Linked DNA regions of Homo sapiens. The protein of the gene in region 1 binds, or shares a complex with, the protein of each later gene. Links are inferred from orthologs where the notes say so. Each region holds a gene or a part of one and is shown on either strand. Other genes may lie near its edges.

Region 1 (7,040 bases):
TGTAACAAACATTTAAGAAACCTCAGCCGGGAATGGTGGCTCATGCCTGTAATCCCAGCATTTTGGGAGGCCCAGGCGGGCAGCTCACTTGAGCCCAGGAGTTTGAGACCAGCCTGGGCAGCATGGTGAAATTCCATCTCTTAAAAAAAGTGCTGGGCGCGGTGGCTTATGCCTGTAATCCCAGCTACTCGGGAGGCTGAGGCAGGAGAATAGCTTGAACTTGGGAGGCGGAGGTTGCCGTGAGCCAACATGGCACCATTGCACTCCAGCCTGGGCAACAAGAGTGAAAGTCTGTCTCAAAAAAAAAAAAAAAAAAAAAAAAGAGAAAAGTAAGTTTTGGTACAGTATTCAAGAATATCCACAATTATCTGAAAAAGCTATTAAATACTCCTCACTGTTCCAACTACATATCTGTATGAAGTCAGGTTTTCTTTACATCCTTCAAACAAAGCAGTATATTGCAACAGACTGAATGAAGAGACAGCTATGAGAATCCAGCCAGACATTACAGAGATTTATATAAGTATAAAACAATGTCACTCATCTTATTAATTTTTTTAGTTTAAAAATGTGATTCGTTTCCATGAAAATATGTTAATCAAAATTAACATGTAATAAATTATTATTTTAAAATATATGTTTAAAATAATTGTTTAACTTTAATTTCAAATATGATAAATATTGGTAGATAAAACCCACACAAATGAAAGGTCTTTGGAGTCCTCAATGCTTTTGAAGAGTGTAAAAGGTACTGAGACCAAAGTGTTTGAGAAGTGCTGATCTGGTCAAACTATCTCATTCAGTAAGTACAACAAAGAGAGCCAAAAAAATTCAGTGACTTGCCCAAAGTGATGACAATTTTCTGGCAGAACCAAGATTGGGAACAAATTTTTTCATTTCTTAGTTCAGTATTCTTTCCATTATGTTGTGTAGTCCAGAGTTTCAGCATGTTTTTCTTGGACATATATGTATACACATTTCACTAAGGCTGTGTCTTTACTGGGGCCAATCCTCAGGTTGTTTTAGTCACACTTGTGAAAACAAGTACTATTTTCATATGGGTTGTTTGCAGTATGAATGCTGACCTATGCGAGAGTGTTCTTAATAAAAAAATAACTTATCTAAGTTATTCTGGCACATGATTTGGGTTAGTTATTTCTGTAAATATTAGATTGGAATTCGATTTAATTTGTAATGAGAAACCTATGTTAAGGCAATACCCTAGGAAGTTATGTTTAAGACCATATGACCCTAGAAATAAATAAAAATGTATCTGATTGACCAAAACTCCAGGGGAGACTTGCGTCTGACCCTGGGCTGTGTCCTCGTCACAGTGAGAAGAAGGTGAAGCTCGTTTCTCTTTTTCCCTTTGCTCCCTCGACAGCCCAAGATAATTCTGTAGCTCACTTCAGGGATTGTATAACCCCCCTATGGCATGCACTTTTCTTTCCCACATAATTATTTCCCCCTGGTTTCTGACTTTTATGAAGCATTTTCTATGTAACTTTGCTTTCTTGTGAGCAACCTCACCTTCTTCAGAGACTCTGGCAGGTGTACAAAAAAGACCCAGATAAAATCTGAGTTAAGATTTCCTAGTAGAGACACAGCCTCTTTGGGCTTGGGAAAATAGGTCTCACAAAATGTAATTTGAAGCAAAACTTAAAAAAAAAAAGAAAAAAAAAAAGAAAACTTAGAAGCGAGAGGCATGGTCATGTCTTCAATGTGTTTCTCTCTTTTCTTCTTTAGTTATGGGAGAGCTGTTCATTCCCAGTGTTAATCTTGTAGTCGCTGAGAATGAACCTTGTGAAGTTACTTGTCTACCCTCACACTGGACCCGGCTCCCGGATATTTCCTGGGAGCTCGGTCTCCTGGTCAGCCATTCAAGCTATTATTTTGTTCCGGAGCCCAGCGACCTTCAAAGTGCAGTGAGCATCCTGGCTCTGACCCCACAGAGCAATGGGACTTTGACTTGCGTGGCTACCTGGAAGAGCCTGAAGGCCCGCAAGTCTGCAACTGTAAATCTCACTGTGATTCGGTGTCCCCAAGGTAAGTGAAGACATTCTGCTTTATATGAAATGAATGATTATTTCATGCTTCAATATTACGTAGAATGCTCCTTCATCCACGATGCCTGGAAAAATCATATGGCGACCTTGATTTTGGGTGGGGATGATAAGGCCAATCACATCTGCTGTCAGCTTAATAATCTTATACCCTCGTCTGCTTTTTAAATTCCATCTTAAAGTTTTTTTTCTCCTATTACATTTGAAAACCATTTAGAATCTTGCCAATTATTTATCATCAAAGAGCATCAAGTTTGGAGACAAATGCTTGAATTAAACATTTGTGTTTCTAGCTTTTACCTACCACTGTTTCAGTTTGATCCCACCCCCTGAGCCAGTATGAAGCAGGTCTTCATACTGGAGGAGGGTGTTCAGGTCTCCCTGGATTTCTTCCAATCTTAGTGGAATTATAATGCTTCATTTTCTTCCCCACCAAATCTACAATGTGTTTGAAAGTGTCAAGTCTATATGTATATAGTTTAACTTGACTAAATGACAGAACTTTAAAGTTTAGATCCCCCTAAAGAATCTCCTGTGGGGTTTTTGGTGTACCAGACACTCTAACCACATTCCTTGAAGGGGCCCATAGCGCCTGTGAGCTTTGAGTCAGCCTGGACAGGGTGGGCCCGGGATGCTGGAGATTGACTTTAACTTAACATTTTACAAAAAAGGAAGTGAGGCCCGGAGAAAGTCTGTGCTTTCATCCGGGTCACACAGCCAAAGTGGCAGAGCTGGGCCTAGAAGCTGAGAAGAGCTTTTCTTTTCGTGTCTAAAGCTTTTCCCACCATGAAAACACCTTTACCTGAGATCTTCCAAAGTTCAGAACAAAGCCATAGCCAAAGCCAAATAATGATGGTAACGATAATAAACAGCACCCTATAGCTCTTACCAAGTTATCAGGCACTATTCTGAGCACTTCTCAGGTATTCACAGAATTAACCGGCCCTACAGCCGTATGAGTGTTGCTGTTATTCCTATTGTAAAGGCAAGGTGACCGGGACAGTGCTGTTGGGATTGTGCACACGTCTGTAGAGTGAGTAAATGACAGGGCAACCTGTACTCACCTGTAGAGTGAGTAAATGACAGGCAGTCTGTCTCCAGAAACTGCTCACCTGGCAACTCTGCCCACCGTGTGAGCAGCCACTTGGAGGGTATAAGAGGTCCCATGGCTGCCGTAACGGAGGACCACAGGCTTGGTGGCTTAAACAACAGAAATGGATTTTCTCACAGTCCTGGAGGTTGGAAGTGTCATCAGGGCTGGTTCCTCCTGAGGGCTGGGAGGGAGCCTCTGTTCCTTACCTCTCCCCTTGTTCCTTGTGGTTGCTGGCCATCTTCCTTAGCTTGTAGAAACATCACCCTCCTCTCTGCCTTCATCTTTACTTGGTGTTGTCCCATTTTTTATGGTCTTTTCTGAGATAAACACTTTTGAACGGTACAGGTTATTTTTGCAAGATGCCTCTCAATTTGGGTCAGTTTGGATCAATTTGGATCAATTTGGATTTGTCTAAAATTTTTCATCATACTTTGACTTAGGTTACATATTTTTGGCAAGATATAGGTAATGTAATGTGGTCACAGGATGACAATTTTCATTGGCGTAAGTTTGACCGTTTGGTGAAGGTGGCATACCCTGAATTTATCCAACATAAAAGTACCTTTTTTGACTTTATAATTAATATGTAGCCAATAGATATTGTGGGAATATCCTGTTTACCCACAACCTTTCACCTAATACAATTTTTTAAAAAAACTTTTATTTTAGGTTCAGGGTTACACATACTGGTTTGTTGTATAGGCAAACTCATGTCACAGGGGATTGTTGTACAAATTATTTTATGACCTATGTACTAAGCCTAGTACCCATTAGTTATTTTTCCTGCTTCTCTCCCTCCTCCCACCCTCCACCCTCAGATAGACCCCAGTGTGTGTTGTTCCCCTCTATGTATCCTTGTGTTCTCATCATTCAGCTCCCACTTATAAGTGAGAACATGCGGTATTTGGTTTTCTGTTCCTACATTAGTTTGCTAAGGATAATGACCTCCAGCTCCATCCACGTCCTTGCAAAGGAGATGATTTTGTTCTTTTTTTACCTACTAACTTTTACATTCATTGATAAATCATTGCCTGAATCAATTACTTCTATGGTGATTGTAAAGAGTGATTTCCTGCTTCCATTATTCTTTCCATATCTCTTAATTGGCTTTCTTTTGTTAAACAAAAGACTTCCCTCCCCTTTCTTCCTTTTCTTTTTTTTTCCTCACAGTTTTAGTAGGGACTCAATTTTGTCCAATACATTCTAATCTATTCCTGTCATTTTTCGTTTTGACACCCAGATTGCTCCAGACTTGGTCAGTTGGTGTCCCTCCAAGCTGGTGCTGGTGTCCTTCCGACATCCCCCTATTAGTTTTTGAGCACCTGGACCAGTAAGGTGTTCCAGTCTCACTTTGCACTTCCCTGTCTCCACCTGGAATCAGTCATTTCTCCAGAGAACCAACCTTAAATATCATAAGTTAGTCTACTTAAATATGATAAAGTATGGTCCAAACTTTGAAAGAGAAGATTTTAAAAAAATCCATTAGCACCAAATGGAATAAAATGGACTGGTTAAAGCATATATCTTAACGAGGTAACGATGCAGCAGGAGCTCTGGCCTGATTGATGGTACCTTAGAGAGATAGATTTTAGAGACTGGCTTGCTTGCAAATGTTTTCTTTTGTAGTGGAAGGGAAAGAGAGCACTTAATTTCCCTTGGTCAGGTTAAATTCACTGAATTCTTCTTAGTCCAGAACTAGTGCCTTAACGATGGTAGCTGGAGGCATGGCTGCTGGAGAGGGAGGCTCAGTGGGTGCTTGCAATGAGTCTAGCTTTATTGGATTCATTTGGAACAGGGTAATTTGTTTCTAAATTATTCATCAAGATCCAGTGCAGCTGGTGGCTGGCTGCATGTTGTGTGTTTTAGGTAAGTTTTATTAGCTGAAGACCTCATTGCAGCCTTGGTTGGCGGAGCTGGTGACCAGACGAGGCTGTAAGGAGAACAGCCAGGTTTCCAGAGAGCCAAGTGTTAATGGGGCTGTGCCCATTCAGGCTTCTTCAGGAATCATATAAACATCCATTTTTCCACCCATTTCCTAAAAGTGCAAAGCATTTGTTTTCATTTCTGAAATGATCCCTGCAAGTCGTTGAAACAGGAATGACGTCAGCTTTGGAAGCTTATCCAGTCAGGGCAAGTCACAGGGTTGTATGAAGTACTTCCTGGTTTATAGTTCAAAAGGTTTCTTTAGAGAAAAACATACTGGGAGGGCTGACATTCATTTCAGATCTGTTTTTTAGAAATTGATTTTCTTAACTACAGAAATGATACAAACCTCGAGCATTGCAGACGTATCCAAAACTGGAGAGTGAGGCCGTCTCACCCTGTCTTGGGAGAAGCACTGTCAGAGCCATCTGCCCCTCGGGGTGGTTTTCTTTGTGCACTTATTTGTGTGTAGGTTGTGAAATGGTTAAAATGAAGTAATGTTTTTAGGACACATGAGCACCTTGTGGAATGTAGTGATTCCTGGTTATAACCTTACTGTTTTGAGAAATGGCAATTTTGGGTGCAGAGAAGAGTAGTAGAAGTGACAGTCCTAGGCCTTTGCCCTGGCACTGATGGTGCAACTTTGGGCAAGTCAGCAAACTTCAGGGCTCAGTTTTCTCACCTGTAAAGTGGGTAGGAGAAGAATAGAGAAGTCCTCTCTCCCGGCTGTGGATCAGAGACAGCAGAGGAGCCTTCTTTATAAATATGCTGAGGCTCAGCCTCCTCCTGGGGGTTTTGTTTCATTGGTTTTTGTGGAGCCTGGGAATTGCAATTGTAAAAAAAGTTCCCAAGTTACTCTAATGGGCAGCCAGGATTGGGGGCTACTGAACTGAAAAAAAAAATCTCTAAGGCCTAGCCTTCCCCTCCAGCCCGATCAAGTGCTATGTCTACACAGACTTGGACATTAGACAGCCTGGGTTCCAATCCCAGCTCACACAATCACTAGCCGTGTGTCTTCTGGGCAAATTACTTACCCTCTCTGAGCCTCAGTTTTAGAACGGTCCTTGCTCCAGAGCACATAGGACTGGAAAGGGAGTGATTGTCATTCACACTATTGATTCGGAGATCTCTTGTGTCGCCTCTAGTGGGCACAGGGATATGCTTTGCACATGATAGTGGTGACATTTGGTATTAATATGTACTTGGCACGTGTTGGTGGTGACATTTTATATTAATCCATTTGGTTTTAAGAAATTCTATACCTTTTTAAAACTCTATGCATTCCTTTGAGAGCATCTGGGAAATGCTATTTTCCTTTTCTTCACAGATGGGAAAAGGACAATCTCCAAGTGGAGGTTAAAGCACATGGTAAAGTCAGTAATGAGGCCCTAACAAGCACACAGTGGTGTGAAGGAGTGCAGGGAGAAAGGCAAGCAGTGTTGACCTTGGAGCTAATCTTCCTTAGTCACTATGTGTGGGTTACTCAGGTATAGTATACTCATCCTCTCCAGCAAACCTGCCATTCACCTGAGCCAGACACACCCACACCCTCCATAGGGTACAAGGCACAGACCAGCACCCCACTGTAGACTTTATGCAAATACATTTATGTCATACCTGGGCCATATTTTCCTCAGAAGGATTATTCTACATTGGAGACAACACATGGCAGGATGGAAAGATATGAGCCAGTGGCCCTGTGGCTTCCTGTTCTGGGCTCCCTGTGCCATTTACTTAGTCACTCTGTCCTGAGCGTCTTGTCTGCATGATGAAAAGATTGGATTATGGATGACATCATTCCAAGAGTCTGTGTTTTCTGTCCACTGTCAGATTTTTGGTTTGTCAATAATATATGGCTATGATCTATTTTTCAGTATACAGTAAATGCACTCTTTTTAAAAAAATTAGCTCCATACTAAACAAAAATATACATGCATGTGTGTATACCTATGTGTATAGAT
Region 2 (7,040 bases), on another chromosome or scaffold:
GGGTGATTTATAAAGAAAAAGAGGTTTAATGGACTCACAGTTCCATATGACTGAGGAAGCCTCACAATCATGGCGGAAGGTGAAGGAGGAGCAAAAACATGTCTAACATGGTGGCAGGCGAGAGAACATGTGCAGGGGAACCGCCCTTTATAAAACCAACATATCTCATGAGACTTACTCACTATCGCAAGAATAGCATGGGAAAAACCCGCCCCCATGATTCAATTACCTCCCCTTGCGTCCCTCCCACAACATGTGGGGATTATGGAAGCTACAATACAAGATGAGATTTGGGTGGGGACGCAGCCAAACCATATCACGCATCTTGTTTTTGATTGAGGAAATTGCCATGTTTGATCATTTCTCTTAACTAAGTGATGATCTTAAACAATTTCTAAATAACTTTAGCTTACTGATCTTGTCTTTATTTGAATACATTTTGATCTTTTGTTCATCATGGATTGTTTGCATTCATTTTGCATTTTTTTAAATATTGCATTCACATTAGGATTACTGAATTTTTCTGCACCTTAAATTTTGCACCTGAAGGTGAGTGTCTCACTTGCCTCACCTTAATTATGACCTTGTCACTGTTAATTTTAGAAACCTAAGAATATCAAAACTGTGGTTTGGATGCAGCTCTGCTACCAACTACTTTTTTGGATCTTGATATTTTCCTTTTACCTGACCTGGTGGCCAGCCAGCTACAATGACAAAACAGTAGAATTACAAACTCTTCCCAGGTGTGCCACTAAACTTCACCCAAGGTCAGAATTGATTGTTGCTTCAGCTGATTGTTACACTTGACAGAGACACACAGGTGAACAGTTTGCTGAAGGGTTCACAAGGCAAGAGGAATGACTCGCTTCAAAGAAGCAAAGAATGTAACCTAGGGCCAGGTCTCACAAAAGATCACAAAACGACCGGATCCTGTAAGAGCTTTGTTTCATGAGTACATAAGCGAGCCCAGTCAAGTAATAAAGAGTTCTCTCCAGCAAGGACACCACATGGAATGTGACATTTTACAAACAGTGTGAGGCTCTGCCCTACTGTATTCATGTTTGCTTTGAATTTTTGCACATTTAAAAGTTATTCAAAATATTTTACTCCCTTCAGCCAACCTCTTGTTTTACAGCATGTTTCAAACACACAAGGGCTAACTCTATATCAGATTATTTCTGAGGTTACTTTTAGCTTCAAGAAAATGAGCTTAAGATTTTTTGTTTTTTTGTTTTTTTTTTAATTGTTGATGATGCTTTAAAATTTGGATTAAGCTCCATGTGGCAGAATGGTTGCTTAGTTTCAAACTGGTCACTGGGGTGACAGCTCAGTGCAAAAATCACCATCACAGTCAGAAACACCATCCTGGACCACGAACAGCAGAAATATACCCACAGAGGAACCAAACAGACCAGCGCCTGCCACTTCTTCAAATGGTGGCCTCATCTCTCTTTCTAAAATAATTCACCCAGCAGGCATGTCTGCCTAACTACTGCCCTGGCCCTAGCTGTAACTCCTAAATCAGGTTACTGGGGGGAAAATAATTGCCAAAGTTAGGGCAAAGTCTATCTTTCTGTATTAAACAAAGTAAATGTACAATTACATTTTAAATTTTAGATAAATTTAGTAAGACTTGACAGGATCGATAATGTGCCATCAAACTCTTATGGCAATTTTATAAAGGCCAATTGTAAATGAACATACACAGAGGATGGGCAGTGTTCTGTGGGCTATTCCTTAGCTTACAGACTCTCATGTAATAGGGAAGAATTAGGAGCATTAATGACCTGGATAAAAATAGTCACACATGGAATAAAATTATCTTCAAACTAAGAACCTGGGTTGGAAGTTTGGGGTGATGTGTCTGTGTGTGCATGATGGGGGGCAAATACACTGCAGAGGAAAGAGTGGGGAGGCAGGTGCTTACAGGCTGCCGCCAAGGTCGTGGTTAGCTCTGCTTCTGCTTAATTTCTAAATCAATGATCTCGAAGAGGGACTAAGCCACTCATTAATGAATCTGTGAATGACATTAGCCTGTATAGTATTGCAAACACCCAAAAATACAGAAAAAAAAAACCCTTTTAAATGGTCTTTAAAGAGGTCAGAAACATGTCAAGAAATTACAGGAGAATTGAACTAAAGGGAGACCATGTAATACATCTGGAGTCAATAAAGGAGGACATAGATGTTCAGAATGTGGGAAAAACAAGGGAAGTGGTTAAGCGAAAAGAGTCCCAAGTGGCTAGACAATTAGACGCAAGTTTTAGAAGTCAGGGAATGCCTTTCATAAGCAGGTTAGAGAAGAGTGTTCCTTCTCTTGACGAGATTTTACCACCTTTCCCCTGGGGTGCCATACTTGGGTTTGTTTGTAAAAACTCTGTAACAGAAAAGATGTCCTTCCATTTCCTAGTCCATAAACATGATGAAATAGAACTGACCCCCTGCAAACAACAACAACAACAACAACAACAACAACAACAACAACAACGACAAATGAAGGCAGAGTATTTTTGCATTGATTCGGAGCTCTGTTCATGCTAGGAGTCACCAAGGATCCCGGGAAGAGCTGATATCAGAGGGGTATGGAAAAGAAGCAAACTGACATTCTTTCATCCAAAGCTGAAAAACAATTTCAAAAAGTGTTTATGTGTGTATGGTTTTTTTTCTGTTGTTGTTGTTTTTTTTAAAACAGATAACCAAGTTTTACAGAGGGAAGGACAAGATGAGGAAAGATATTTGAATTCTCAACATTTTCCGGCTGTGTTTCAATTCTACAGGGGTCATGGCTTTGCCTAATCCATGCCTGGGATTGGCCTTAAACTCTGTGGGAGTTCCTGTAGGGAATTCCATTTCATCTCCAATACATTTAAGTCTAATTATGAAAACAGAGTTTATCCACAGGAAAAAAAATGTAAAAACACTGCAAGAGAATACATAATACATGGCAATGTGTATAATGCCCCAAGACAGGAGCCATGGACAAGCTTTGGAGGAGAGACAATAGAGAGTGCATGTGGCCCAGAACAATCAAGGAAAGTTAATGGGATAGACGGTCCTTGGGAAGGATCACGAATGATAAATGCGATCTGGACAAGTGGGAAGTAATCCAGGTGAGAAGAACCTGAGCAAATGTGTCAATCAAGGAAGAGTAGTGATCTCTTGATGTGACCCATATGACGACCTCTATGTGAGGTTTTAAAATGATTTATTTAGAAGTCATAGGATTTTGATCGGTTAAGGAACTTAGATTTTCACCAAGTAGAAAAATCCTCTTTTCAAGATCCCTACAGCACCTACCAGCTTCTATCTGAAACACTTCCACTGATGGAGAACTGGTCAGTTTTTCAAATAGCTAGTGCTTCCCACGTTACTTTGACCTTTGGCCTTGTTCTGCCTTTCAGTGTAACGTATATCACATTTGCTTACTCAAAACATGACACACACATCCCCAAATTAAAGACAGCATTGGGTGGTTCCTCCCTTGTTTTTATCTTTGTCTTTGGTTCTTCCAATTGTCTTCCTGGGTAGTCCAGATGGTGGTAAAAGATCTACCCAGGATGCCTTCTAGTTTGTTAAGGTCCCTTTGAAAACCCGTACCTGGAAGTGAAGTTATCCTGTTTTGGTTTGGAGGACTCAGGATTCAGTGGAGTGATCACTTCCTTAACCAGGATACTATGTGTTTACTAATGCAATCTATGATGGTTTTTACTGTTTTGTCTTATTAGATATCTCACACTGTTGACTGGAAGAACTCAGTAGGCCTTTAGAGTACAAAACACTTACTACTGTGGCATGAACATAGAAATAAATGAAGGTAGTGATGATGGCTGCCAATTCTGACTCTCCTTGCCTGTACTTTGCTCAGTATTTCAGCCTCCAAGTGGACAAGAAATCTCTCCATAAGTAGTTGGAAGAGCTTGTGTATATGGTTGTCAGCTGGGGATACAGTGGGTAGAATGAGGGTCCCTGCAAAAGATATATCCATGTCTTAACCCCAGAACCTGTGACTATGACCTTACAGGAAAACGATCTAAGAAGGTGTCATGAGGTTTAGGATCTTGAGATGAGATCATTCTGGATTATCTGAGTGGGTCCTAAATTCAATGACAGATGTCCTTAGACACTTATAAGACAGGAGGAGAAGACACAAACGCAGAGGAGAAGGTGATGTGAGGAGAGAGGCAGAGATTGGAATTATGCACCCACAAGCTAAGGAATGTCTAGAGCTACTAGAAACTGAAAGAGACCAGAGAAGACCCTCTCCTGGAGCCTTCAGAGGAGTGTGGCCCTGCTGTTACCTTTATTTCAAACTTCCAGCCTCCAGAACTGTGAGACAATAAATGGGAGTTGTTTTAAGCCACCAAGTTTATGGGTATTTGTTATGGCAGCCCTAGAAATACAGGGGTTACATATTTCCAGGGGTATTCCTGCAGGAATGGGGTGAATGCTCCCAACGATCCTTTCCAACACTTCTCTATAGGGCTTAGAAATAGGGAAAAATATTTGGAGACAGCAGCCACATAGATTGCTACATATTTAGCAACTCTACCCTATTAGAAAATGTATTAATTTCCCTTTAATTCATTAATAAGTTAGAATACAGATGCTTTCAGAGATGACTGTTAGACTAAATTTGCAAAGGGCCTCAAGGGAAAAAAAAAAGGCCACAGATAGAATGGCTGAGTGTGTGTATGTTGTGGAAGATGTAATATAAGTCAGACAATCATATTTAATGAGGAGTCTGAAAACACATGGTGACTCATGTATTCATGCGAGTATGCAGGAGCCTAAACATGCTGCGCTCTATTCAGAAAAGGCCACGTGACTGTCAAAAGCAGTCATAAGCAAGTTATGCAAATCATCTCAGCAGATAGCAATGACATATTTAGACCTCCCCATCATGCATGTGCTATTGTGCCAAGAAGCTATTAAAGAAAATTCTTGGAGAGTTTCGACTCTGCTGCTGGTGAAGTCTTTTGTGTGCCTGTGACAAATGCGTCAAACACAAGAAGCAAATAAGAGTCACTTGAAAAAAATCATGGAGTCTAAGTCCACATATTCTAAGTCACAAATTAGTGATGTTACCAAAAATGTCCCCGGTTAATTGGGATAGAACTTGCTCCCACTGTTAGAAGTGTACTAGTCAGCCTACCATGCCAAGGAACTTGGCTTTCTAGAGCAGAGAGAAGTTCTTTCAGATGGATAGGTGAAGAAGGGCAAAGGCAAAGAGAACAAGAGTAAACAGATGATTGTAAAAACTGCAAATCTCAAATTGGTGGATCATCTTGTCTACCTTCTACCTGAGGCAGAAATTCTTTTTAGAATATAAAATAAAAAATAATGATTATTACTATTTAATGAGCAGTTTGCAATATGCAAGATACTGTGCTGGGTATTCAACATGTTTTTTCATTTAATCTAAAATAATCCTATGAGATCATTAAGGTAATCTTCACTTTACAGATGAGTGTATGTGCAGCTGAAAAACACAAATCCTCTTTGTCATTCATTTATTAATTCATTCACTCATCCAGCAAACATACACCATGCACTAAATATGCCAAAAAAAATGATCACCTTCAGTGACAAGAAACTCAGTATCCCAAAAGGCAACCTACTACATTTTCGGACAACTCTAATTCATAGAAAGTTCTTCCTCTTACTGATCTGAAGTGTGTATCTGTGTAACTAACCAAATAGGTCACTGTGGTGTCCTCATGTCACACAGAACAAAATGGAGGAAAGGGTAAACACAGAAAGTTTACGGGAGACAACAAACGTTTTCTGTTCCTGATTTCAGCTCAGTGTAGTTTTCCACATTTTATGGTTTTTTTATGGTTTTCATGTCAACCCTATTCTTTGGGGATAGTTAATGATTAAATCATATTAACCCAGGAACAGTGACACAGTCTTCCTTCCAAACAGTTTTGAAAAGCCTTTGATACTTTGGAGGCATTGTCAGAGGACAATAAATTTGCCAACCACATAAAAGAGAGTCTATGTAATGTCAGTACATAAATATTAGGAATAGTTGTATGCTACTGGGAAGTCCATGAATACTGAGGCAATGAGGAGGACACACTTTAGAGCATCTCTTATGTGTCCTCGCCTTGCCAGCATCTTACAGACGGCATTTCGAGTAGTCAAGATCGTATCCTGGTCAAGAGAGTGAAAGGAAAAAAAAAGTAGTCAAGATCCCACCAGACCCTATTTTCTCCACTTTAAGTGAGGAATTCAAATATAGAAAGGAAGTCTTAGCCAAGGTCTTGGAGACAAGGAGACAGTGACAGGTGAAGCCAGGAAATCACCGCTCCAGGAAGACCCGCTGTTTACTCACATCACAGAAGCCCACTCCCCACAGGTTTATGAAAGACCAGGCATTTCCACTGGCAGCCACTCTACCCTGGAACTCCAAGAGAAACAACACAATCTTTGTTAACAGGTTTTCCTCCTCTGCCTTTGGGAGCCTTTTGGGAAATCTTTTTTTGCTCAGTCTTTGGCCCTCAACGTACTACCGTTTCCATCATTATTACATCCAGATAGTAGCATGACCTAAGATGTCTAACTGTAAGCAATATAAAAATGTTTAAAATAATATAACAATAGTTAACACTCACTGAACATTTAAAATATGCCAGGCACTTTCCATGTAATTATTTCAATTATTCCTCCCAACAGCTCTGAGTCTGGGAAGTATTTCATTTCCCAGCTGATGAAACCAAAGCAAAGAAATATTAAGGAACTTATTTAGGCTAGCAACTACATGGTAGAACTGGGTCTGATACACAGACCTGTCTGATACTATCAACTATGCCTTCCTTTCAATATTTACAAGTAACACTGTGGCAGGTACCATTCCAAGCACTTTACACATTTCAACCCATTTCATCTTCATGATAACCCTATTACACAGCTGATGAGAGCAGCTTAAAGAATCTGTCCCAGGTCACACAGGTAGCACATGGTAGATCTGGGTTTCAAAAACCCAGGTAGGCAGCCTGATGCCAGAGACCAGACCACTATTCTAAAGCAGTAGCATT

What was found. Proteins that work in one complex are often made in the same cells at the same time.
Region 2: the proteins of IGSF5 (region 1) and LNX1 are in contact, whole or in part, in a crystal structure (PDB 3VQG), measured with the Mus musculus proteins. The link is inferred for Homo sapiens from one-to-one orthologs. Residues at the interface, in NP_001171358.1 of Mus musculus: Val367, Thr368, Leu369, Val370; in NP_001153049.1 of Mus musculus: Gln396, Leu397, Gly398, Ile399, Lys400, Leu401, Val402, Phe413, Leu416, Pro446, Ala449, Ala450, Ile453.

What each region holds. Positions count from the first base shown.
Region 1 is NC_000021.9:39,769,170-39,776,209, forward strand, and holds part of IGSF5 (immunoglobulin superfamily member 5), read left to right. Parts: intron 1-1,746; coding exon 1,747-2,046; intron 2,047-7,040. UniProt on the Homo sapiens protein: Provides, together with MAGI1, an adhesion machinery at tight junctions, which may regulate the permeability of kidney glomerulus and small intestinal epithelial cells. Mediates calcium-independent homophilic cell adhesion.
Region 2 is NC_000004.12:53,581,487-53,588,526, forward strand, and holds part of LNX1 (E3 ubiquitin-protein ligase LNX), read right to left. Parts: intron 1-7,040.